Linked DNA regions of Homo sapiens. The protein of the gene in region 2 purifies or fractionates together with the protein of the main gene of each other region. This does not show direct contact. Each region holds a gene or a part of one and is shown on either strand. Other genes may lie near its edges. The genes, in order: FLG and INPP5A.

The links.
Region 1: the proteins of INPP5A (region 2) and FLG purify together in Homo sapiens (affinity purification with mass spectrometry; one large-scale study listed by BioGRID and IntAct). This does not show direct contact.

What each region holds. Positions count from the first base shown.
Region 1 is NC_000001.11:152,315,048-152,318,862, forward strand, and holds part of FLG (filaggrin), read right to left. Parts: intron 431-3,815; 5' UTR 410-430; coding exon 272-409; intron 1-271.
Region 2 is NC_000010.11:132,743,654-132,747,468, reverse strand, and holds part of INPP5A (inositol polyphosphate-5-phosphatase A), read right to left. Parts: intron 1-3,815. UniProt on the Homo sapiens protein: Phosphatase that specifically hydrolyzes the 5-phosphate of inositol 1,4,5-trisphosphate to inositol 1,4-bisphosphate, and inositol 1,3,4,5-tetrasphosphate to inositol 1,3,4-trisphosphate. Plays a crucial role in the survival of cerebellar Purkinje cells.

The DNA.
Region 1 (3,815 bases), on a different chromosome or scaffold from region 2:
ATGTTTGGGAGAATATTATAAATACCAAAATACTAAGAACTAATTTACATTAATTTTTAAATATTTATATTTTTTTCTCTGAGGGTGTCTTTATGTTTATAATATACATCCAGGTATAGGGGAAGAAAATAAAATCTATCTCTTTTGAGACAAGATTAACTCTTTTCCTATTTTAAGAGAAATAGTTCACAAAGAGCTCAAAATAACCCTTGCTTAGATTATTGATGAGAAAAACAAATGCTCTATCTTTGGTCTTGTCAGAGACTCTTACCTTCAGGATTTGCCGAAATTCCTTTTCCAGAAGTTCCTTCAGCTCTTTTTTACTCAATGTGTCAGTGTTTTTATCTTTTTTTGAATATTGCTTGAAAAGATTAATTATGGCAAAGATGTTTTCCAGGAGAGTAGACATCTTTTGGCAATAAATGTGAACCTAGAAAGAAGAAATGAAAATGCACTTTTTTATACATCTTTTTTTCTAGGTTATATTATTACAATCATTTTCCACATTTTAAACCTACATTTTCCTCTAAGTAATCCATCTTTAAGAATGGAAGATGGACATGAGAAACTTTTCTCTACCATCTACATAAAACAAATGAATAGAGTTTTCCTGACTTAAATAAAATTGCCCATTTTTTGGCCTTGTGCCCACTTACAGCTGGACTTAGTAGTCTCACAGACCTCAGTGTGCTCTAGGTAAGATCATCCCTCTTGCTGATCTTGCCATTGCTAGCAACAAGAATTTAGAAAGGCTGACTGGTTTTAAGCAGTAAAATTTACTTATACAAATTTACTGAAAATTACTTCCCCAAAAGCTAACTTAATAAATGATTAATTTGCTAAGACACAATTCTCTGAAAGCCAGTTAGCCATATGACAAGATACTCAATGAAAGTTCATTCAATTTTTTATTTGTTTTTTAAACATTTCATGAAGTTTATAATATTTCATTGTATAGGATGGATTTAATAGCTCTTCAATATTTAAAGAGAAAGGTTTTTCTGACTGGGTTTCATTTTGCCATTTAAGGAATGTTCAGTTTATCTCATTGGTGAAGAAATTAGTAAGCATGTCAATAAATCTAAGTGTGTATTATATAAAGAATTATAACTTTATTAGGACTTACAAAACCAGGTGAAACTAAAATACTGTAGAAAACAATGTGAAGGAGATTACTGTAGCAGTCACAACTAAAACATTTTTGGACCTTGGTTTGTTTGGTAAGAGGAATTAGATATTAATGAATTTTGCTGTGGTTAAGTGATATATGTATTTGGGTAAGTTTATGGGTATTTACTAAAATAATAGAATTTATAATTTCTAAACCATTAGAGATGAAAAAGGGGAATTAAGAAACTTTAATAATTCAACAGAAGCCAGGAAAGAAGAAAATAAGAAGCATAGAAAAAGAAGGGTAAACAGAAAGCATAAAATAAATTAATAGAATTACAAATAATTTTATTATTACTAATTACAATACATGTAAAATAGACCATATCTTGCCAGTTAAAATATAGATTGTAAAGATTGAATTTAAAAAATTACAGGTATATGCTTCTTACAAATGCATTTTAAAGTTTATGATTATTTTCAGCCAGTCTTATTTATGATGATATTGTATTCTCTGAACTTATCGTTACTTGCAACATATGCAAAATCTCTTTCTGAAGGATCTCACTCTTTGACCTTCTCTTGTACGCTGATGTCAATAATTCTTTAACCTCTCTATTTACTGCTTTATGTACTCACTTCCCTTTTTACCTTGGTTAGACATTATGTTTAATCTCCCCAAATGCCCCTTGGATACATCCACTTGTCCTACTTTTTCTTATACCCACTGGCCAAAGCTTCAACAACTTCTTCTTTCCTTTATCTCTGATGTCCTTGATTTTGATTCCTGAGAACTTGGAAGCCATTGGAAAAGAGTTTCCTCATTCTCCTAATATCTGATCTCCCAACCTACTACATTTCTATCCATATACCTTGCCTTCACTTTATTTAGGGTAATAAACAGTCTGTGCTCCTCCTGTCCTTTACTTTGGCACTGAGCCCCACTCTCTCTTGCCTACCCAAACACTTTGCTTTTGCAGTTGCCTACTTTCTCATATGCATCATTAATTCTTCTTTGTCTACTGGATCATTCCCTTCAATATATATTCATGCTGAAATATCTATCTAACACTTACCTTCCCATCTCCACCCCACCCTCAATCTCACATCTGCCTTTAGGTACCATCTGATTTATCTGTTCCCTTTTATAGCAAAATTCCTCAAAAGATATGCCTATACATTCTGTCTTTACTTCCTCATTCTTGTTTTCCTTTACTCAAGGTATTTTTCTTTCTAAAAAATGTATTAAAACTCTCACCAAGTAAAAAATATCCTTCATATTTCCAAATCCACATATCCATTTTTATTTTACATATTACTTGACATATCAGCAGCATTTGATGCAACTGGCTTCATCCTTCTTCAGAGACCTGGCACTCTCAAGTTTCTCCTCCAACCTCAATGGCCACTTTTTTCTTAGCCTCCTCGTTCAGCTCCTAATGTTGCTATGCCCTATGATTCACTCCTTAGCTTCTTTTCTTTATTATACTCCCTCGGGTCATCTCATCTAGTTCTATATAACTTTTTAAATAAGTTGGCAACTCACAAGTTTATACCCCCAGTCACTGACTGTCCCCTAAACTTGAGATGTGTATGTCTAAATGCCTATCCAGTATTTCTACTTGAGTCTTGTAGAGATCTTAAATCTATTATGTTCAAAACAGAAGTCTTGATTTTCAACTGCTTTACCCTAAAAATGTCGCACACCCGTTATCCTCATCAGTTATTCCTGTCTTCCTGATGGCTCAAGTCGTAAACCTGAAAATTAGTTGATTCTCCTTTTCTTACATCCAATATCTATTCCATCAACATGTTTTATTGATCCTACTTTCAAAATATCCCTAAAATTAGTCAGTTTTCCCTACTTCACTCTGTTTCCTTCTCTAGTAGTTTATTTTTATCACCACAGAAACATGCTGGAGTATCTTCCATCTTAAAACCCTTCCCTCGAACCATTATTCCACCCTCCCCCAACATTTCTCCTAACATCTTACTAGCCTAATTAACTGCTTCATTTCACAGGAGTCTTGGAGAAGTTTTCTCTGCTTTCTCTCTTAAAATGTTTACCACCCACTTTCTTTTTAACCTGCTTCTCTCAATTTTCTATCACCAAACTCTACTGAAACTGCTTTGTGTCAAATCATCTGTGATCTCCAAGTTGTTGAATACAGTGTCATTTCTCCATCATTACCTCATCATCATCATCTTACTTAATCTCTTGGTATGTGAAATAGAATTAACCATTCCTTTCTTAATGGAGTCTTTTTTTCTTGGATCTCATGACACCATATTCTTCTGATATTCCTCTTACCCATTGAATGCTGTTGTCTCTCAGTATTCTTTACTAACCTCTCTTCTACTCAATCTCAAAAGGTTGGAAATATCTGTGGCTGTGTCTTAGACCTTCTTTTTAAAAAAAATCTACACTCCTTTCTGAGGCAATGTCATTGGATCCCATCACTTCAGATACCATCTATCTGATGACTTCAAAATTGATACCTCTAGGCATAACCTTTTCTCAGAGCTTACATTCATTCATTCATTCCTTCATTTATTTAACAAGTATTGAACAGCTACTAAAGGGTTAGGCACTGTTTCATGCTTTGGAGATATAGTAGTGAACAAGATAGATGAGGTGCCTGCCTACTTTTGTGAAGACAATAAACAAACAATAAATTAATTCAACAATTAGATATTGATAAGTG
Region 2 (3,815 bases):
TCTACCTCCTGGTGGCTGGTGTGCAGTGTCTCAGCCTGGGCCAGGAGGCGGCCACCCGCTATCCCCAAAGCACACTCCAGGGCAGGCCATTGACATTCCGAGCACAGACCGGCTGATGGGGTCAAGCCCCCCAAAGTGGCTTTTGGACTCATGTGTCACAAATCAGTCTGGAGCCTTCAAACAGCGTGAGGATTAGAACAAGCACCCAAACAGCCACACAGCGGGGCCACCCTGCCCACCCCTGTGTCCCAAGGAGGTCCGGCCCCATCCAGATGCTAATGGGCTTAAGTGGCTTAAGCTGCTTTCCCTGAATGGGAGAAGGCTTGGCAGGCAGACGGCCATTGTAGCCATCCCAGGACGCGGCTCAGGAAATTCACGGCTCTGTCTCCCAAAAGGCATCTGCGGGAAACTGTTTAAAAACTGCTTTATCTCAGCACTTCAGGCAGGCTCCCAAAGGACAAACATCTGATGGACCCCAGAGCCCAGGAAGGGGCCGGCCACCCCAAACCCCTCCCCAGAGCTGCCTCATTCACAGGCTGTAAAGGAGTGATCAGGCCAGGCTGAAGGGGCCAAAGCTGGCCTGTTCCCTTTGCCTTTCAATCCAGCAAAGTCGTGGCCACTCATGCGGAAAGTGGCCAGGCTGGGCCTTTCCGGCTCGCCTACTTTGGGAAGGGATTCTTCTCTTTTGAAAGGAGAAACAAATACCCTAAATGCTATGTTTAAAAAGCCATCTAAGATGTATTTCATTATTAGCAGCCGCAAGGAGAGGCTCTGGAAAGAGTGGTCCGGTGTGCCGTCTTATCCACACTTAGAATTTAACGGGAACGCTGTGTGCCAGGGTCATCCACACGCGTGTGGATCACGAAGTTCCTGCATTTCTTCTTACTGTTTGGATAACCAAGGAGGCATGCTGCCTGGACAGGGCGTCCACAGGCCCAGGGCACAGGTGTCAGCCCAGGAGAAAGGCTGTTTTCTGTGCAAGGAAATAACGCAGTCATTCGGATGTGCACGGAGCTGCATGGCAGGCAGAGTCGCCCCAATGTGCACCTGTGCAGTTGGTCTCACGTTGGGAGCTGAATCTGTCCCATCACCCCCTCAACTGTCCCGGACACTCTGCCACAAAATCCAAAACTCTACTAAAGGCAAACACATCCTCTCAGACCCTGTCAGCCCAAGTTTTTAAATGCAACCTTCAAGAGCTGGTTTATAAAAACAAAAAGTTGTTCTGTACTCTCTGAAATGAATCCTCGCTGGCTGTAGCCTCCAGGCACCGCACGCACAGCCAGCAGGCGCCTGGGCTCCACTCTCTACCTGGAATCACCAGGTGTCCAGAGCGCCCTGCCTGGGCCAAGTGGACACACAGCCTCGGGGGCCCACTCAGGGCTCCGAAGAAGCCATCTGGGCACACGTGCAGGCAACGCCGAGGCCCTACCCCAGGCTTGGCTTCTAGGTCCTGCCAAGGCGTCTCAGGGTAGGCAGGGTAGGCGAGGCTGGGTGGGCAGCATGTGTTGCTCTTGTGGCTGAGCTGGGAGCTCTCACGCACCCGCCTGTTCTCCAGGACACACTCCTCCTCGGGGGCCACCACACCCGGGCCCACCACACCCGAGGCCACCATGGCCGGGCCCACCATGCCCAGGCCCACCATACCCAGGGCCACCACACCCGAGGCCACCACGCCAGAAGCCCACCATGCCCGGGCCCACCATACCCAAGGCCACCACAGCTGAGGCCCACCACGCCCGAAGCCCACCACGCCTGGGCCCACCACACCCGAGGCCACCATGCCTGAAGCCCACCATGCCCAGGGCCACCACACCCGAGGCCACCACGCCCGAGGCCCACCACACCCAGGGTCTGACACACTGTGGGCCCACCACACCCGAGGCCCGGGCTGGGGCCAGTGCCAGCCGTGACATGCCTCACATGAGGAGGAAGGTCCCAGCAGGGCCCAGCACAGATGCTGCCCGGACTCGGGAAGGGAAAGCTGGGATCCCAGGGGTGCAGCTCAGGCACTGGAAAAGCAATCAGGCTCGAAGGCTGGGAGATGCCCCTCCTGCCACACGGAGAGTCCAGTTCCCTGGTTACTCCCTGGTGGTCAACACACTCCCAGGCAGACAAGGGAATCCGTTAGTCACTGGGGCCACAAACCTCCTTCCTAGGGCCAGAGCCTGGCAACAGGGACAGCCCCAGCCCTCACCTTCCCAAAGGGGAGGTGTCCCCAGGAGCATCGTGGCCTCCAGGAGCTCGCGAGGGGATGGAGGACCCCGTCCTCTGTGGCAGGCAGGCAGAACCACCTGCCCCAAGATCAAAGGCTGACAGGCCATAGCGCCCTCCCACCACGTCACCCTGTGTCCCCAGGCCCTCCCAGAACCGCCCAAGCTCGCCTGGAGCAGAGGCAAATGCACCTCTGTGGCCTCCTGAGCCAGCCACTGGCTCGGGCACACCCTGTCCCCAAGCCTGTGCCACGGGAGAGGCGGGCAGCCCGGGCCTCGCAAGCTGCCAGGGGCTGCACCGCCGGGCCCAGGACAGCACTTTCGGGAGGGACAACGGTGCCGTGGTCTGTGGCGGCATGTCTAACATGGCGGCTGCACAAAGTGAGGCTGAGGTTGAATCCTAACCTTCCTCAGTGGATAGAAATCAGTCAGCCCTGCAGGTCGCCTCAGGCTCAGGGACAGCCCGGCCTCATGAAGCCTGGGAATCCCAACAACTTCTTCCTCTCCTTGAGAGCCGTGTCCTCTGTCTCACCTCAATGCAGGGAGTAAAAGGGCGTTCACAGTTAAATAAAATAAAAACGAACCACAAAGCCAACGTTGCCCCCGAATCTAGAAACACCACAGGCAGCTACTAAGGGGCAGATTCTAGTGCGTTCTTAAGGAATGAAACCATCATCAAGGAAATAAGGCTTTTTTCCTCCAAACTGAGACCCCCTAAAGGAGCCGGTATTGAAACTCCCCCATCTGCCCGACACCTACGGGCATATCCCACCATGAACGGGATGTCCGCTGACACCGATTCCATAGACACAGGGACCGGTGGAGCCGCAGTGTCCCACCCTCCCGGGGGTCCTGGAATTCCTGATCTGGCCATTGCCTCGGTGACAGCGGCCGCTCTGCTGCGGGAGCAGGGCCTCCTGGGAGGCCTGTGGGTGGTGGGGGATGGCTCACATGCTGGCCCCAGGACCAGGCCAGTTTCTACATACTCAGCTGCTGAGTCAATCCGTGGGGGGCTCAACTAACTTTTCTCATCCAACCAGAAGAAAAACCACCTTAAAGCAGAAAGCAACAAAATGAGCCTGCTCCTTGAGGCTACGACTCCCAGCCCCTCAGCAGGCACAGAAGCTCTGTGGGTGCACCTGTTTCCCTGGTGGTGTCTGGCAGCTTGGCCAGAGCCGGCCACTCCTCCACCTCTGTGGGGGCCCGTCCAGCCTGGCCCTTAAGTGTCGCAAGACACAGACCTGCAGGTGCAAATCCGCTGTGGCTGGAGTTCTTTCTCATAACAAAAACTTCCTCTGTTCCAAGGATGGAATTCGGGACCACACGCTCAGCCATGGTCTGTCTGCGCCAGAGTGAATGCACTAAAACCAGGAGGCTCAGATGTGGCCCCAGCCTGCCTGTCTGAGCCCCGGGGCCGGCCTTGGAGGGTGTCCTCAGCACACGTGTGCACCCCAGTCCTCATCACAGGTTTCCTGGGAGGGTAACGTCTGCGCTCCAGTGAGGCTGCCCGTCAGCAAGCTTAGCAAGGGTGTGACCGCTGTGGGCTGGCTGGGGTGGTGTGAACTCAGCCACTGACTTCAGTGATTCAGAAGTTTCCTCCCC